Regions from separate parts of the Homo sapiens genome. Here region 2 is linked to region 1. Evidence: fine-mapped QTL for protein levels in blood plasma. A gene starts in region 1. The other region holds a variant in brackets. All regions are shown on one strand. Distances are from middle to middle. Region 1 holds the start of VEGFB (vascular endothelial growth factor B). Region 2 overlaps MACROD1 (mono-ADP ribosylhydrolase 1).

What was found. PIP is the chance, under the fine-mapping model, that this variant and not a neighbour inherited with it causes the effect. The UK Biobank Pharma Proteomics Project read protein levels with antibody pairs (Olink). The fine-mapping took linkage between variants from a reference panel, not from the people measured, so its PIPs are less certain.
Region 2: its variant is fine-mapped to the plasma level of the VEGFB protein (UK Biobank, PIP above 0.99).

What each region holds. Positions count from the first base shown.
Region 1 is chr11:64,232,260-64,236,968 of GRCh38, forward strand. It overlaps VEGFB (vascular endothelial growth factor B), which reads left to right and starts at 2,325. Exons shown (of 7, transcript NM_003377.5): 1 at 2,325-2,634; 2 at 3,199-3,241; 3 at 3,554-3,750; 4 at 3,995-4,068. The coding sequence starts at 2,575. DNAJC4 (DnaJ heat shock protein family (Hsp40) member C4) reads left to right here. Exons shown (of 6, transcript NM_005528.4): 3 at 171-355; 4 at 445-606; 5 at 1,635-1,721; 6 at 1,814-2,022. The coding sequence ends at 1,925. RefSeq lists silencers at 1,873-2,362, 2,583-2,952.
Region 2 is chr11:64,151,490-64,164,436 of GRCh38, forward strand. MACROD1 (mono-ADP ribosylhydrolase 1) reads right to left here. Exons shown (of 11, transcript NM_014067.4): 2 at 803-904. Among named protein-coding and RNA genes, the nearest start is that of MACROD1, 8.2 kb to the right of the region's middle. RefSeq lists enhancers at 895-1,890, 1,891-2,885 and a silencer at 1,632-1,851. The variant G/A (reference allele first, on the strand shown) is at 7,306.

The sequences.
Region 1 (4,709 bases):
GCAGGAGTCCATGCTCTCTGGCCTTCTGAGGAGTGGGCAGGCCTGAGTGAGGGTCACTGACCAGGCAGGGCCTCTGGGTATGACTGGAGCCCTGGTGGGTGGATGTCATCAGCATGGGTCCTGGGGAGGGACAGGCAAAGGGAGATAAGGGGAGTCCTGCCCCACCCCAGCTGCACCCAGACCGGGACCCTGGGAACCCAAGCCTGCACAGCCGCTTTGTGGAGCTGAGCGAGGCATACCGTGTGCTCAGCCGTGAGCAGAGCCGCCGCAGCTATGATGACCAGCTCCGCTCAGGTAGTCCCCCAAAGTCTCCACGAACCACAGTCCATGACAAGTCTGCCCACCAAACACACAGGTACAGTAATCCTGCCCTCAGCTTGCCCCACCCCCAGGTCTCTTGGGTAGTCTCATTTCCACAATGTCCCTTCCTCTGCCTCCCAGCAGCTCCTGGACACCCCCCAACGCACAGTACTGGTCCCAGTTTCACAGCGTGAGGCCACAGGGGCCCCAGTTGAGGCAGCAGCAACACAAACAAAACAAACAAGTGCTGGGGTACTGCCTCCTCCTCATGCTGGCGGGCATGGGCCTGCACTACATTGCCTTCAGGTGATGCCTGTTCTCCCCGGGGTGATGGGCAGAGGGCAGGAGGGTGGGTGAATTCCAGTGTGGTCAGCCAGTCCTCCACAGCACCTCGTGGCCCGTACTCTTGTGTCTCTCAAGCTAAGAGCTGCTTGAAGTTGGTCTCTGGAGCCTCTCCTTACTTATTAAAGGCAGCGCTGCACCAAGAGCTAACGTTGTCATTTACAGTTTTTCATATTTCGAATGTAAATCTTTCATGCTGGCTGCCAGGAAGGGATTGAGCCAAACAAAATCAAGCACAAGCAGCAAATGCAGCACAGCTCATTCATTTGGCAGTAGGCATCTCCCTGCCACTCTCACGCGTGCCACGGAGCTGATTCTCTTTATTCTCTTTTTTTCTTTTTTTTTTCTTTGAGATGGAGTCTCACTCTGTTGCCCAGGCTGCAGTGCAGTGGCGCAATCTCGGCTCACTGCAACCCCACCTCTGCCTCCCAGGTTCAAGCAATTCTTCTGTCTCAGCCTCCCGAGTAGCTGGGACTACAGGCGTCCACCACCACACCCGGCTAGTTGTTTTGTATTTTTAGTAGAGATGGGGTTTCACCATATTGGCCAGGCTGGTCTCAAACTCCTGACCTCAGGTGATCCACCCGCCTCAGCCTCCCAAAGTACTGGGATTACAGGTGAGAGCTACCGCGCCTGGCCACAAAGCCGATTTTCTATAGCAGATACCTAAAGGCCAGTGCCCACTGCTAGCAGCCTGCCTAGTTCAGTGATGGAGTTAGACGCATACCCTTTCTAGTCTTCTGGGAGGAGCACCCCCATGTCCACAGCTGCTGTCACACCTCAAAGTGACCAGGGACTTCGGATGCCATTGGACCCTAGACAAGCCAGGGCCACTCTGAGCCCTCCCTATCTATCACAGGAAGGGTTAGACTGAGGTTCCTAACCCTGTGTAAGGGTAAAAAGCTGTGAGGCCCCTAGAGTGGGGTGGAAGGGGGCAGGACTTCAGGGACAGCAGGAATTGGATTCCCAGGGTTAATTGTGACCCATTGCAGGAAGGTGAAGCAGATGCACCTTAACTTCATGGATGAAAAGGATCGGATCATCACAGCCTTCTACAACGAAGCCCGGGCACGGGCCAGGTCTGTCCCTGCTCTATTCTGCTCCCTGCTCCCTGTCCAGGAACCACACTTCGGGATCCCTATCCCAACCACCCAGGTGCCCTCTCCTCCAGGGCCAACAGAGGCATCCTTCAGCAGGAGCGACAACGGCTAGGGCAGCGGCAGCCGCCACCATCCGAGCCAACCCAAGGCCCCGAGATCGTGCCCCGGGGCGCCGGCCCCTGAGGGGCTCACCTGGATGGGGCCTGCAGTGCGTTCCCGCTTTGCTTCCTTCCCTGGACGGCCCGCTCCCCGAAACGCGCGCAATAAAGTGATTCGCAGAGCTCGTGTCCGGCTCCCTCCTTAAGGCCCGACGCCCCCGGCCCCGGCCTCGCCAAGGGGCAGCGCCCCGCCCTCCGGGTAGTGGCGGCGGCGACTGGGGAGCCCAGCCTCCTGGGCGGTGCGTCCCCTTTCCCCTGCCGCGGCGGGAGGCGGGAGGGGGTGTGTGGAGGAGGCGGGCCCCGCCGACGGCCTCGCCCCCCCACCCCGCCGCCCCGCCCCCGCCCCACGGGCCGGTGGGGAGCGCGTGTCTGGGTCACATGAGCCGCCTGCCCGCCAGCCCGGGCCCAGCCCCCCGCCGCCCCCGCCGTCCCCGCCGCCGCTGCCCGCCGCCACCGGCCGCCCGCCCGCCCGGCTCCTCCGGCCGCCTCCGCTGCGCTGCGCTGCGCTGCCTGCACCCAGGGCTCGGGAGGGGGCCGCGGAGGAGTCGCCCCCCGCGCCCGGCCCCCGCCCGCCGCGCCCGGGCCCGCGCCATGGGGCTCTGGCTGTCGCCGCCCCCCGCGCCGCCGGGCTAGGGCGATGCGGGCGCCCCCGGCGGGCGGCCCCGGCGGGCACCATGAGCCCTCTGCTCCGCCGCCTGCTGCTCGCCGCACTCCTGCAGCTGGCCCCCGCCCAGGTACGTGCGGCCCGACAGCGCGCCCGCCCGCCCGCCGTGCCCTCTCTCAAGGTTGGCGGAAGTGAGGAGGCGACCCGCGGCCTCGGCCGAGGGGATCTGCGGGGTCCGGCCTTGGACGCGGGCGTCTCGGGGGCCCGGCGCGTGCATCCCCTGGGAGGTGCCCCTCCCCGCTGGCCCGCCAGCCCCAGTCTGGGGCCACTCCTCCGCCCCACCCCGTCCCCTGGGCACCGCCGGGGGCGGGGCTCCCTCGGTGCCTGCAGGACCTGCTTCGGTGGGCACTGTGCGCGCTCCTGATCTGCATGCAGCCCCCAAACATGCTCGGCTCCGCGGCCTGGAGATTTGGCGCGGCCACCAGAGCACCTGTTGCGTTTTGGGCCAGGGCAGGTCCCGGGTGGCCAGGAGAGGACAGGTAAAGCTAGAGCAGTGGCCGCAGGAACAGAGCAATCTGGAAAGATGTCAGAGAGGTGGTGAAGCCTACTGATGCAAGGGCAAAGCCCCAGGGACGGTGACAGGGCCACACCCTCCTAAAGTGTACCTTGGGTACAGGTCTTTTCTCTCCCACAGGCCCCTGTCTCCCAGCCTGATGCCCCTGGCCACCAGAGGAAAGGTAATACTTACAAAAACTCGGCACTAGCCAGCACTAAGAGGGTTTGTCATGGGCCCTGATTCCAGGTGTCCATCATCTTGTGTAACTCCCCTAGAAGATTCAAACTATTATTCTACCCATTTCACAGAGGAGGAAATTGAGGCAGTGGGGTTACTGGGATCTGGATAAACAGGGCAGGGGAAGACAGGTTGTGAGGGCAGAGTGGGGAGGGCTAGTGGAGGGTGGCTGTGACTTGGGGACTGGGGAGGACAGATGCTGGGAGCAGCTGCAGGAAAACCAGTGAGGACTTAACCCCTACCGGTCTGCTCCCAGTGGTGTCATGGATAGATGTGTATACTCGCGCTACCTGCCAGCCCCGGGAGGTGGTGGTGCCCTTGACTGTGGAGCTCATGGGCACCGTGGCCAAACAGCTGGTGCCCAGCTGCGTGACTGTGCAGCGCTGTGGTGGCTGCTGCCCTGACGATGGCCTGGAGTGTGTGCCCACTGGGCAGCACCAAGTCCGGATGCAGGTACTGGGCAGGTGGGGCAACGGGCAGGGGATGCAGGTACTGGGCAGGTGGGGCAGCGGGCAGGGTGGATGCTGGCTGGCTCTGGGGCTGGGGCAGCCTGGAGACTGATGCACAGGAGACAGGGTTGGGGGGAGGGCTGGTGGCCAGCCTCCCGGCTGTTGGGTGAGCTTTTCTCCCTTCAGTCTTAGAGCATCCCCTTTCTCTCTCTCCCTCACTGTCCCCCCTGTTCTTCTCCTGAGCACAGATCCTCATGATCCGGTACCCGAGCAGTCAGCTGGGGGAGATGTCCCTGGAAGAACACAGCCAGTGTGAATGCAGGTGCCAGCCAGGCCCAACTTCTGAGCTCGCAGAGGCCAGGCTTGGGGGGTGCTGGGTATGGTGGTCCACAGAACTGGGGACCAGGTTCCTAAGAGTAGAACCAAGGGGCCGGGCGTGGTAGCTCACGCCTGTAATCCCAGCACTTTGGGAGGCCGAGGCGGGCGGATCATGAGGTCAGGAGATCGAGACCATCCTGGCTAACATGGTAAAAACCTGTCTCTACTAAAAAAATACAAAAAATTAGCCGGGCGTGGTGGCGGGCACCTGTAGTCCCAGCTACTCCGGAGGCTGAGGCAGGAGAATGGCATGAACCTGGGAGGCGTAGCTTGCAGTGAGCCAAGATCGTGCCACTGCATTCCAGCCTGGGCGACAGAGCAAGACTCTGCCACAAAAAAAAAAAAAAAAAAAAAAAAAAAAGAGTAGAGCCAAGGGTAGGCCTTGGATCTGGGGCAACAAAGTAGGATGCTTGGGCCGGGGGTAGTGGCTCACACCTATAATCCCAGCACTTTGGGAGGCCCAGGCAGGCAGATCACCTGAGGTAAGGCGTTTGAGACCAGCCTGGCCAACATGGTGAAACCCCATCTCTACTAAAAAAAAATACAAAAATTAGCCGCGCATGGTGGCAGGTGCCTGTAATCCCA
Region 2 (12,947 bases), 77 kb before region 1:
TGACCCAGTACCAGGAACCCACACTGAGGAGCACCTACTGCGTGCTAAAATCACGCGGGGACTCCTTGCATCTTCACAGCAAGGCCACCAGCAGGTACAGTGCCAATATCATCTATCCCATTTCACAGAGGTAGAAACTGAGGATTAGGTGGGTCAGAGACTTGCCTAGGGTTATGGGTCACCAGGCCTGCTGTCTCACCAACACACCCCACTGTAAGCAACCAAATCGCAGCTTCAAACCCCAGCTCCCCACAAGCAAGTAATCTCGGGCAGGTGGCTCACCTAACCTAGGGCTCTGTTTCCAACCATACAATGGGGATAAAAATTGCACTTGTTGTGTTAATAATTGAATGAGATGGCCAGGCGCAGTTGCTGACGCCTGTAATCCCAGCACTTTGGGAGGCCGTGGCGGGCAGATCACTTGAGGTCAGTAGTTCGAGACCAGCCTGGCCAATATGGTGAAACCCCATCTCTACTAAAAATACAAAAATTATCCAGGCATGGTGGTGCATGTCTGTAATCCCAGCTACTCAGGAGGCTGAGGCAGGAGAATCGCTTGAACCCGGGAGGTGGAGGTTGCAGTGAGCCAAGATCGAGCCATTGCACTCCAGCCTGCGCAAAAAGAGTGAAATTCCATCTCAAAAAATAAAATAAAATAATTGAATGAGGTGATACACGCGGAGCACCTGCCTGCAGCAAGCACTCGATACATGCCACTGGACTAGCTCTTCTTGTCTGCACAATTCTCCCAAGCCACGGGTCTGGAGCCTGCCCACCAGGGCCTCCCCCGAGCAGGGCCTACCTTTCGCCATCTCCTTCCATGTCGGGATCTTCTTCAGCCTGACAAAGTCCTTGCAGAAGTAATGTTCCTCCCGCTGCTTGTCACTCAGGCCCTTCAGAAAGGCTGCAGAGGCAGGAAGGAGGATCAGGGTGGGGGCAGAGGAACGGGCCTGGGGCTTGCACCCCCACATCTCCTTTCTTGCCTCATCCAAGAATGCAAACCAGCTCTTCCTGTCCCTCCTTCTCTGGGCACACAGGGCAGGCATGCTGGGGAAACCTCAGAGGCCCCTAGAATATCTTGTCCTGCTCTCTTTGTTCAGGGAGGGAAACTGAGGTCTGGGGAGGCTGAGGGACTGGCTCAGGCATCGCAGACCTGGGTTGTGATGAATTCAGCTCTGCCACTTTCCAGCAGCGTCCACATCTCTCTGGGTCCCCCGTTTCTCCCTGATTAGAACGGGGGTGAAGACGTCCCCTGCAGAACAGCTCCGAGCTTCCTCCCACACACTAAGGCCAAGCCGGTTGGCAGCACTCAGCCAGCGACATTATCCATCAGTCCCACCGCCAGTCAGTTCTGCCCTCACTGTCACTGCATGCAGGCAGCGGGACAGCTGTCCTCCTCCAGGAGCTGCAGGACCAAGTGGACCTGGCACCTGTCCCCAACATCCCCCCCGGCAGCGGCTGAGGGCTCCCAGCATGACCAATGGGGTTGGAATCGTTCTCGTTTTACAGATGAGGAAACCGGGGCTCAGGGAGGTTGGGAGGCCACCCTCACACAGCAGGGACTTGAGTGAGGAGCCAGGCACCCCCCACCCGCTCACAGACTCGGGGTCCACCCTGGCCGGCTCCCCTTGCCTGAGCACTGTCCCATGGGCTCCGCCTTCCCTTGGGGGTGGCACCAGGCACAGAAACCTGGAACCCGTCTCAGAAGGGCCCGCCCCGACCGCGCCAGGCCAGGCTAGCAGCTCACGGGCTCCCCCTGCTGGCCCGAGGCCGCCTGCACACCCAGGCGCTCAGCCCAGCCTGGCACCCTGGACCACAGGCTCCCGGGATGGGGCAGCCCCCACGGCAAACAGCAAAGGCTACAATTGAGAAACTCAAAAAGCATCAAAAAATATGTAGAGGCGGGAGAGCAATTAGAGGAGGTGGTGAGAAAGGAAGGACTGCAGCCTGGAAGCTTCTATGCACATGGCAGTGAGGGGGACAGGTAGGTCCCTCCACAAATGTTCAGGGAGGTTGGGAGGCCACCCTCACACAGCAGGGTGTTTTCCCGGCCAGAGTCACTTCATCATCCAGGCCTCCATCTCCTCATCTAACCACTGCTGGCAGGGGTGATAACAACCCAAGGATGCTGAGAGCATTAGATGACAGAACTCATGCAAGGGGCCCAGTCCAGAGTCCCTGCTGGATGCAAAGGTGGGGTCATCACAAAAGGCTAGGCCCACCCCTGGTCAGCCCCCACTGCTGCTCAAGCCAGAGCCACCTTTCCTGGCAGCCACTTCTGCCCCCTCTTCCATAAACATGTTTGGGCACGAGTAGGTCCTGCATTCAGTACCAGCGCTGCCACCTGCCAAGCCCACCTCCCAGAGGACTCACTGCTGCAGGTCCCCCTCCACCAGGCTGTCCTGCCTGCCCTCAAATAATCCCGTCCCCTCCCTCAACGCCCGCATTCCACGCCCCTGCAGCTGCCCCCTCCTCTGCTGTCTCCACTTCTTCCCTCCCATGCTCCCTTCAGTCCACCCAGTCTGGTCCCTCCTTCCAACAAGGTCAAGGTCACCACACCCCATGCAGCGGCCCCTCCTGCCTTCCCTGTGGACAGGAAGTGTCCTTGCTGCTTTCCTCCCTAGGTCTTCTAATCAGTTGCACAGATTCAAAACGCTCTTTAAGCAAGCAACCTCCGGGGCTGTCCCTCCACTCTCTTCTGAGCCTCTGACCCCCACAGTGCCTGCCTGCTCTCATTCCCCAAAGCCCAGGCATGCAAAACAGAACGTTTGACTCTTTCCCCCAAAACGTCATTTTTTTGTTGCTCCATTCTTCCCTCTTTTTTACTCGAGACCCTGCACCAGGGGTCCCTCCCTTTCCATCCTCTTTTGGATTGATCCCCGTGACACCCTAGAAACCAAGCCTTCCTCTCACCCTCCAGGACTGAGCCTTCCTCATGGCTCCCTAGATCCCACAGACGCTCCCAACTCCCAGCTGATCTCCGTGTGCATCTCATCCCCATCTGTTCCTTGACCGGCAGCCATGGATCCTGGGAACATAAATCAGGTGCCATCCCTCCTCTGTTCAAAACTGCATTCAAACGCCGGTCCTCTGGCCTCTCTCCCACCTCACTCCCAATGCTGCCTCCCCCACTACACCAGTTCCCCAAACAGCCAGGCTGCTTCCTGCCCCAGGCCCTTTGTACCTGCTGTGCTCTGCAGGATATGGGATAGTTTGCTTTTGTTTACACTTATTCTTTTATTTTTTTTTGAGACGGAGTCTCACTCTGTCGCCCAGGCTGGAGTGCAGTGGCACGATCTTGGCTCACTGCAACCTGCACTCCTGGATTCAAGCAATTCTCCTGCCTCAGCCTCCCTAGTAGCTGGGATTACACGCGTGTGCCAGCACACCCAACTAATTTTTGTATTTTAATAGAGATGGGGTTTCACCATGTTGGCCAGGCTGGACTTGAACTCCTGACCTCAAGCAATCCACCCATGTCAGCCTCCCGAAGTGCTGGAATTACAGGCGTGAGCCACGGCGCCGGCCCCCTTTCTTGATCTTGGCCATCTTGACCTGTAGGTTCCATAGGGGATCTGCTGTGTTTGCCATCAGATTCCCACCACCTGGCACGGTGTGTGGGCACCTGAGGGTGCCTGAGGGGCACGCTGAGGAATAAATGAGCCAAGACCAAAGGTTGAGGGCGAGTTTGCTAAGTACAGAGTCTTCTAGGCAGAGGGAACAGTATGTGCAAAAGCCCAGAGGTAAGAGGGAGCCAGAGATGATCCCCTAATTAAAAAAGAAAAAAAAGAGAGAGAGCATTTGGGTGGAGAAAGTGAGGCCAGTCGGTCTCTCCAGGTCTGCCTCCCTGTCTGAGGACGGACAGATGCTGGTGGCAGCCGGCCTAGACCCAGGCTGCGCCTTTTCTTCTGTTATAGGTCCCGCCAGGTTTGGGTTCGTGACCTCCCAACACCATGCTCAGTTTGAAGCCTTGGGTTTTCCCATCTCTGGAATAGGGACAAGGCAGGCCTTCCCTTGCTAACACCCAGGCTTGCTGGGAGGGTCAAAGGAGAAGGTGGCTGTGTGCTGCAAAGTGCGGTCTACACGCCAGACACACTCACTCCTTCCTGGCGGCTAAATAATGCCCAAAGAGAACAAAGCAAACAGGACAAAATTGTGGAGAACTTTTTTTTCCAACTTGGGGACACAGCAGCCGGAGGAACTTTTCTAATTATTTGGGTCCCCAGCACTTGGGGAGACCAAGGCAAGCCAATCACCTGAGCCCAGGAGTTCGAGACCAGCCTGGACAATATGGAGCAACCCCATCTCTACCAAAAAATACAAAAAATCAGCTGAGCGGCCGGGCATGGTGGCTCACACCTGTAATCCCAGCATTTTGGGAGGCCGAGACAGGTGGATCACCTGACATCAGGAGTTTGAGATCAGCCTGGCCAACATGGTGAAACCCCATCTCTACTAAAAATACAAAATTAGCCGGGTGTGGTGGTACATGCCTGTAATCCCAGCTACTCGGGAGGCTGAGGCAGGAGAATCGCTTGAACCTGGGAGGCGGAGGTTGCGGTGAGCTGAGATCACACCATTGCACTCCAGCCTGGGCAACAAGAGCAAAACTCCATCTCAAAAAAAAAAAAAAAAAAAAAATCAGCTGAGCGTGGTGGACATGTGCCTGTAGTCCCAACTGCCTGTGAGGCTGAGGCAGGAGGATCGCTTCAGCCTGGGAGGTCAAGGCTTCAGTGAGCTGTGATTGTGCCACTGCACTCCAGACTGCCCAACAGAGCGAGACCTTGTCTCTAAATAAATAATTTGAATCCCCATATTTGTCACCTTGCACAACTGTGACCTCCCCACTGCGAGGCCTTGGCATGCCACTGTGTGGGCACTCCCAGACGGCTGGACCTGTGGCCAGAAAGTCAGGTACCCACCGTGATGCTGGCGGGACTGGTGGGCTGGGACCCGGACGGACCCCAGAGGCCTTGCTGAAGTGTCTCTGGCTGGGCAGGCCCTGGGAATCCCATGGAACTAGACCAGCGTGACCAGAGACACCTCAGGTGCCCTAGCAGATATCATCTGGCAGATGCCACCACCTTGTTCTAGAGAGGAGGCAGAGTGACCTGCCCCCAGTCACACATAAGCGAGAGGAACCTGAACTTGCTCCCACACTGCCCTCCCTAAGCATGGTAGCCTGGTCTGAGTGATCCACAGCCCACAAAGCCCCTTCTCTCCAGCAAAGCCCACAGGATTGCTCCACTTCCCAGAGACAGCATGCTGGCTCTGCCACCAGCTGGCTGGGCGCCGACCTTGAGGACATCTGTCAGCCCGTCCCTTCTAGTCTATGGACCCAAGTGCATGCCTCAGAAGGCCAGCAGGCCAGACAGCATGTCTGTCCTCACCACCAGAACAAGGCTGTGGCCTGGCTGATCCCCAAAGAGCTACACACTGCACTGGTTTCTGATTTATGGGGAAAGAAAAGGCCAACTGCGCCCATTCAGCATCTCACCTCCATGTCCTCTTATCGGCAATCCTCGCCCGCCAGGCCCCTCTTTGTTCCCCCTGGAGGAGAAACAGGGGCCTTAAGCCAGGAACATGCCCCACGCATTTCTGTGTTTTTTTTTTATTTTTTTGAGACAGAGTCTCACTCTGTCACCCAGGCTGGAGTGCAGTGGCACGATCTCGGCTCACTGCAACCTCTGCCTCCTGGGTTCAAGCAATTCTCATGCCTCAGCCTCCTGAGTAGCTGGGATTACAGGCATGCACCACCACACCCAGCTAATTTTTTGTATTTTTAATAGAGACGGGGTTTCACGATGTTGCCCAAGCTGGTCGTGAACTCCTGACCTCAGATGATCCACCTGCCTCAGCCTCCGAAAGTGCTGGGATTACAGGCGTGAGCCACCGCGCCCGGCCTTGCCCCATGAATTTCTAACATTTCCCACCTCCTCCTGTAAGAAGGACAAATGCAGACTTAAAGCACAAGTGAGTTTTATTTGTTATAAAAGATGTAAAACATGCATTTTCATTTTCTTTCATTTTTGAAGAGGCAAGAGTATTTCACAGTTCAGTGAGATAGGTGTTGTAAAAAGATGTCCGCAGTAAATTTTGATGGAGAGGCCTGACCCCAGACGAAGCTTCCAGCGGCTCCCAGGCACGAAAGCCAAGCAGGAGGAAGCAGGCTCCACCAGAACCATAAAGTGCAGCGGGCGAATGGGAATTCAATGCTGTGTTTTAAGAAGTGTCTTTATGGCACTTTGCAAGATGGTGTTCAGAGAGGTGAGGGCAGGCTGGGGCACCAAGGCAGGGCTCCTCTCAGAGAGAATGCCAGGTGGGCAGGGCTGATAAAGGCTGGGCTCCCAGAATGCAGCGGCATTTAGACTCGGTGGCAGGGGCATTAATCACCTGCGCTCACCGGCCCGCAAGAACAGGGTCTTGTCAAAGCCCACAGCTCGAGCAAAAGGGAGACGGAGCACGCAGCACCTTGGAGCCCCTCTCCTCTACCCTGCCCCCTTGTCTCTGCCCACACCAGGGCATTGGCAAGGCTGCGTCCCCAAAAGACAGGTGGGAGAAGCCCCCCGACTCCCAGGGGTACCTGGAAAATTTGCCAGTGCTGCAGTCAAATCAGATAAGCCATCCACTCTGGATGAAATCCCACGGGGGCTGAAATTAGCCCTGGCTTCTGCACAGTGTGGTGTGAGGCTGGAGCGTAGCAGCCCCACCTTGAGTCACCAAGGAGAGGATGGCTTAGGCTGTGCATGCTCAGGGCCCCAGCACGTGAGACAAGCCTACAAGAGCCCAGTGTCACCACGGCCAGCACAGAGCAGAGAGAGGAGACAGGCCTGAGGGCCTGAGGGGTGACAAGGAAGGGGAGGCTGCTGGGACCCATTCTGGGCCATGATATATAAAATCATTTCTTTTCTTTTCTTTTTTTAATTTTATTTTTAGGAGAGACAAGGTCTGGATATATTGCCCAGGCTGGTCTCGAACTCCTGGGCTCTAGCAATCCTCCCACCTTGGCCCCTAAAGTGCTGGGATTACAGGCGTGAGCCACCACGCCTGGCCCAAAGTGGTTTCTAATGTGATCCCAGCACAACCTCCAAGCAGGTGCCATTGGTCCCATTTTATGGATGAGGAAACTGAGGCTTGGAGAGCGAGGAAGCAGCAGCACGTCTCCACATCTGACAACAATGTCCCTGCTCTTTGTGGCTCACAGCTCTGCCTGCCAGGGGCTGTTGGAACAAGGACCCAAAGCCAGGCCCCTCCTGTGATGATACAGCGCCAGATACCGACAAGGGCCCAACCTAAGTCCCTCAT[G/A]CCCAACTGCCTTTACAGTGAGGGTGTTTCCATGATCTTCTGATGAAAAGGCACTCCCGGGGGGATAAAGAAGTGCCTCAAAACTGAGGGTATTCAATTAGAGAAAGTAGGACGGGCACAGTGACTCACGCCTGTAATCCCAGCACTTTGGGAGGCTGAGGTGGGTGGATTGCTTGAGCTCATGAGTTCAAGACCAGCCTGGCCAACATTGCAAAACCCCGTCTCTGCAAAAAATAGAAAAATGAGGCCGGGTGCAGGGGCTCACACCTGTAATTCCAGCACTTTGGGAGGCTGAGGCAGGTGGATCACGAGGTCAGGAGTTCGAGACCAGCCTGAACAACATGGTGAAACCCTGTCTCTACTAAAAATACAAAAATTAGCCGGTGTGGTGGCACAGGCCTGTAATCCCAGCTACTCAGGAGGCTGAGGCAAGAGAATCGCTTGAACCCAGAAGGCGGAGGTTGCAGCGAGCCGAGATTGCACCAGTGCACTCCAGCCTGGGTGACAGAGCGAGTCTCCGTCTCAGAAAAAAAAAAAAAAAAAAATACAAAAATTAGCCGGTGTAGTGGCACACACCTGTAATCCCAGCTACTCAAGAGGCTGAGGTGGGAGGATTGCTGGAGTCTGGGTGGCGGAGGCTGCAGTGAGCCAAGATACCACCACTGCACTCCAGCCTGGGCAACAAAGTGAGACCCTGTCTCAAATAAATAAACAAACAGGCCAGGCACGGTGGCTCACTCCTGTAATCCCAGCACTTCAGGAGGCCAAGGCGGGCGGATCACCTGAGGTCAGGAGTTTGAGACCAGCCTGACCAACATGGAGAAACCCCGTCTCTACTAAAAATACAAAATTAGCCGGGCATGGGGGCGCATGCCTGTAATCCCAGCTACGCGGGAGGCTGAGGCAGGATAATTGCCTGAACCCAGGAGGCAGAGGTTGTGGTGAGCCGAGATTGCGCCACTGCACTCCAGCCTGGGCAACAAGAGCGAAACTCGGTCTCAAAAAAAATTAAAAAAACAAATAAATAAAAATAAATTAGAGAAAGTAACCCCTGGCTAGTAAAATCAGACACTGCTGAAGTGTCCCCAAAAGACTGAAAGTCTCCCAGCCAGGAAGATCCAGCCTGAAGGTATGTACATACCTAGAGGGAGAATGGGCCCATGGAAATGAGCGTCAGCCTGGAGGTAAAGAAAAGGAGTGTCCAGGGGGAAGCTGAATTTGGCCGTCAGCTTGGAGGACAAGCTGGGCCATGGGCTGGGCATCCTTCCATGGGTCCAGAGCAGGCACTCAGCACTGCATATAGATGGAAATACCGAGCAAACGCCCGGGGAAGGGGATCCTTGTGGGTGGGCTGACCCTTCTCAAACAGGGAAGCTTACCTGCCTTGCCCAGGGCAAGGCTTCCAAAATCACTCAACCAGCCCTGGATAAGATCGCATGCTCTGAGCAATCCTAAGATTACAATTTGGCTTCCATGAGGCTTTCCCATAGGGAGAGGAGGCTCTGCTCAGGCACACCTGAGTTTTCAGACCCACTGCCATTATATTTCCCCACCACAAACTGCACATATGCCTTCTGACCTATACGTCAGTCTCTTGTGAGTTTGGTTACTGTGTGCCAGGCTTTGAGAGAGGATCCTCTCAGGCAGACAAGTATTTGGAGGCCTATCTAGGTACAGCCCTGAAATGAGAGCACATGTCCATCAGAGACATGGAGAGAATGTTCAGGAAGCCAGGCACAGTGGCACACATCTGTAATCTCAGCGCTAGCACTTTTGCAGGCGGAGGTGGGAGGATCACTTGAGCCCAGGAGTTCGAGACCAGCCTGGGGCAACATAATGAGACCCTGTCTCTGCAAGACATTTTTAAAAACATTAGCCAGGCATGGTGGCACATGCCTATAGTCCCAGCTACTCAGGAGGCTGAGGTGGGAGGATGGTTTGAGCCCAGAAGTTGGAGGCTGCAGTGAGCTGTGATTGCACCACTGCACTCCAGCCTGGGCAACAGAATGAGACCATATCTAAAAAAAAAAAAAAAAAAAATGTTCAGCACAGTTTTATTCACAAGAAACCCAAATGCCTATCAACAAAAGAGTGGGGGCCGGGATGGTGGCTCACACTTGTAATCCCAGCACTTTGGGAGGCCGAGACAGGTAGACCACCTGAGGTCAGTATTTTGAGACCAGCCTGGCCAACATGGTGAAACTCCGTCTCTACTAAAATACAAAAATTAGCCAGGCGTGGTGGCGGGTGCCTGTAATCCCAGCAACTCTGGAGGCTGAGGCAGGAGAATCGCTTGAACCCAAGAAACGGAGGTTGCAGTTAGCCAGGATCGTGCCACTACACTCCAGCCTGGGCGACAGAGCAAGACTCCATCTCAAAAAACAAAACCAAACAAAACAACAAAAGAGTGGGAAACAAGCTGTGGTACGTTCATATGCTGGAACACTATACAGCAATGAAAAAGAGGGAACCATTGCCACATCCAATAACAAGGACGAACTGGCCGGATATTGAGTAAAAGGGGCCAGACTTCAAGAAGAGACAAAATGAACAGATATCACAAGAGTGATTAGCTCCAGACAGTACCAAGTGAAAAGAGGCGACTTCTGGCGTGATGGCAATGCTCTACCTTTTGACCCAAGTAGTGACTGCACAGTTGCATACACTGTGCACTGAAGATCTCTACACTTGCAGCACTTGACTGTCAAATGTAACTTGGCTGAAAGTGTGATTTGAATGTAACGATGAAAAGTGTAGCAGTCTTCAAGGGCCACGGCTCAGACCCTAATCAAAGGCAGAGTCCAGCTGGGGCAGCCCCCCAGATCTCCCATAATGTGATGGCTTAAAAAATACACTTGGCCAGGCACAGTGGCTCACACCTGTCATGCCAGCATTTTGGGAGGCTGCGGTGGGCGGATTGCTTGAGGCCAGGAGTTTGAGACCAGCCTGGGTAACATGGTGAAACCCAGTCTCTACAATAAAGGTTTTAAAACATTAGCAGCCCATGGCTCACACCTGTAACCTCAGCACTTTGGGAGGCCGAGGTGGGTAGATCGCTTGAGCTTAGGAGTTTGAGACCAGCCTGGGCAACATGGTGAAACCCAGTCTCTACAATAAAGGTTTTAAAACATTAGCAGCCCATGGCTCACACCTGTAACCTCAGCACTTTGGGAGGCCGAGGTGGGTAGATCGCTTGAGCTTAGGAGTTTGAGACCAGCCTGGGCAACATGGTGAAACCCAGTCTCTACAATAAAGGTTTTAAAACATTAGCAGCCCATGGCTCACACCTGTAACCTCAGCACTTTGGGAGGCCGAGGTGGGTAGATCGCTTGAGCTTAGGAGTTTGAGAACAGCCTGGGCAACATGTCAAAATTCTGTCTCTACAAAAAAATACAAAAAATTAGCTAGGCGTGGTGGCGTATGCCTGTAGTTCCAGCTACTTGGGAGACTGAGGTGGGAGGATCGCTTGAGCCCAGGAGGTTGAGGAAGCAGTGAGCTGAGATCTCACAACTGCACTCCAGCGTGGGCAACAGACCTTGTCTCAAAAGAAAAAAAAAAATTAGTTGCACATGGTGATGCGCGCCTGTACTTCCAACTACTCAGGTGGCTGAGGCAGGAGGATCGCTGAGCCCAGCAGTTTAAGGGTGCAGCTAGCTATGATTACACCACTGCACTTCAGCCTGAGCAACTGAGCGAGACCCTGTCTCGAAAAAAATTTAAATTAATTTTAAAAATTTTGGCCGGCCACAGTGGCTCACGACTGTAATCCCAGCACTTTGGGAGGCTGAGGCGGGCAGATCACGAGGTCAGGAGATTGAGACCATCCTGGCTAACACAGTGAAACCCTGTCTCTACTAAAGAATACAAAAAATTATCTGGGCATGGTGACGGGCACCTGTAATCCCAGCTATTCGGGAGGCTGAGGCAGGAGAATGGCATGAACCCAGGAGGAGGAGCTTGCAATGAACCAAGGTCGCGCCACTGCACTCCAGCCTGGGTGACAGAGCAAGACTCCATCTCAAAAAAAAAAAATTTAAGAAAATTGGCCAGGCCCAGTGACTCACGCCTGTAACCCCAGCACTCCGGGAGGCCGAGACGGGCAGATCACGAGGTCCGGAGATCAAGACCATCCTGACTAACACGATGAAATCCTATCTCCACCAAAAACACAAAAAAATTAGCCGGGCGTGATGGCACGCGTCTGTAATCCCAGCTACTGGGGAGGCTGAGGCAGGAAAATCACTTGAACCCCGGAGGCGGAGGTTGCAGTGAGCTGAGATCACACCACTGCACTCCAGCCTGGGCAACAGAATAAGTCTTCATCTAAAAAACAAACAAACAAACAAACAAACAAACAAAAATTAGCCGGGTATAGTGGTGGGTGCCTGTAATCCCAGCTACTCAGGAGGCTGAGGCAGGAGAATCACTTGAACCCGGGAAGCAGAGGTTGCAGTGACATCACACCACTGCACTCCAGCCTGGACAAAAAGAGTGAAACTGTCTCAAAAAAAAATTTTTTTAAGAAAATAAAAACACACCTTCAAATTCTTTGAGATTCTTTCTTTCAAGAGGTAGAGCCTAATTTCCCTCTCCTGGAGTATGGCCAGACTCCCTGACTCGATTCTGACCCCTAGAATAAAGCAGGAGAGACTTCGAAGACGAGGTCACAAAGAAGGCACTGCAGCTCCATCGGGGTCTCCTCACGATCCCTCTCGTGGAGCATATGCTCTGGGGGAAAAGCTTAGGACATCTATCCCATGTGAGGCACTCAAGCAGCCCCATGGAGAGGCCCCAAAGTGACCAACCGAGGCCTCTCACCAAATGCCATTTTATGGGAGGGAGCTGTTTAGGAAGCCCATCCTCCAGCCCTAACCAAGTCCCACCCGGCCTCAGAGGGAGGGAGACCCTGAGCTAGAACCACCCAGCTAAGCTTCTCTCAGTTTCCTGACCCTCAAGAGATGGAGAGAATGCAGGTTTGCTGTTTTACGCCACTAAGGTTCGGGGTGTTTTGTTACACAGAAATAGATAACTATTGGGGGATCTCCACATCTCACCCCCGAAAGCGTCCCTCTAACTGTGGCTTCAGTAGCAGGCAGAGCCCCAGACCAGCCCCACTCCTTGGGCCTGGCCCACTGTCACTCAATAACGGGTCTGGAATATCATTACCCAGCTGGATGCCTCTTCTCAGGCCACCACCCCTGAGACGCCTCCTCTGATCTCCCCAGCTCAGGTGGCCCCATCTGCTATGGTGTCTTCACAGCACTGAGGTTACCGGGCCTTGTCTCAGCTGCTAGAACACATTCTTTACAATAGATGCTTTGTAATCCTCACACCAGATTACAAGCTCCATGAGGGCAGGGCCCTTGCCTATCTGACACATGTCTGAGTCCCCAGCCTGACCACCTAGGGGGCGTTCAATAAAAGTTTGCTGCATGATTGGAAATCCCACCTCGAAGCAAAAGGGAGACCCCAGTGACAACACAGCAGCCCAGGAACCCCAGCCCCATCACAAGGTCCGGTTGCTTTCCTGGCACCAAGGAGTGGGGCTGTGGGGGCTGGATCCTAAAAACAGCGGCAGCCCTCGAGCAGGTGCCTGGGCACCTTGTCTCCGTAGCTCTTTCCCACCCTCCTGGGTTGTTGTC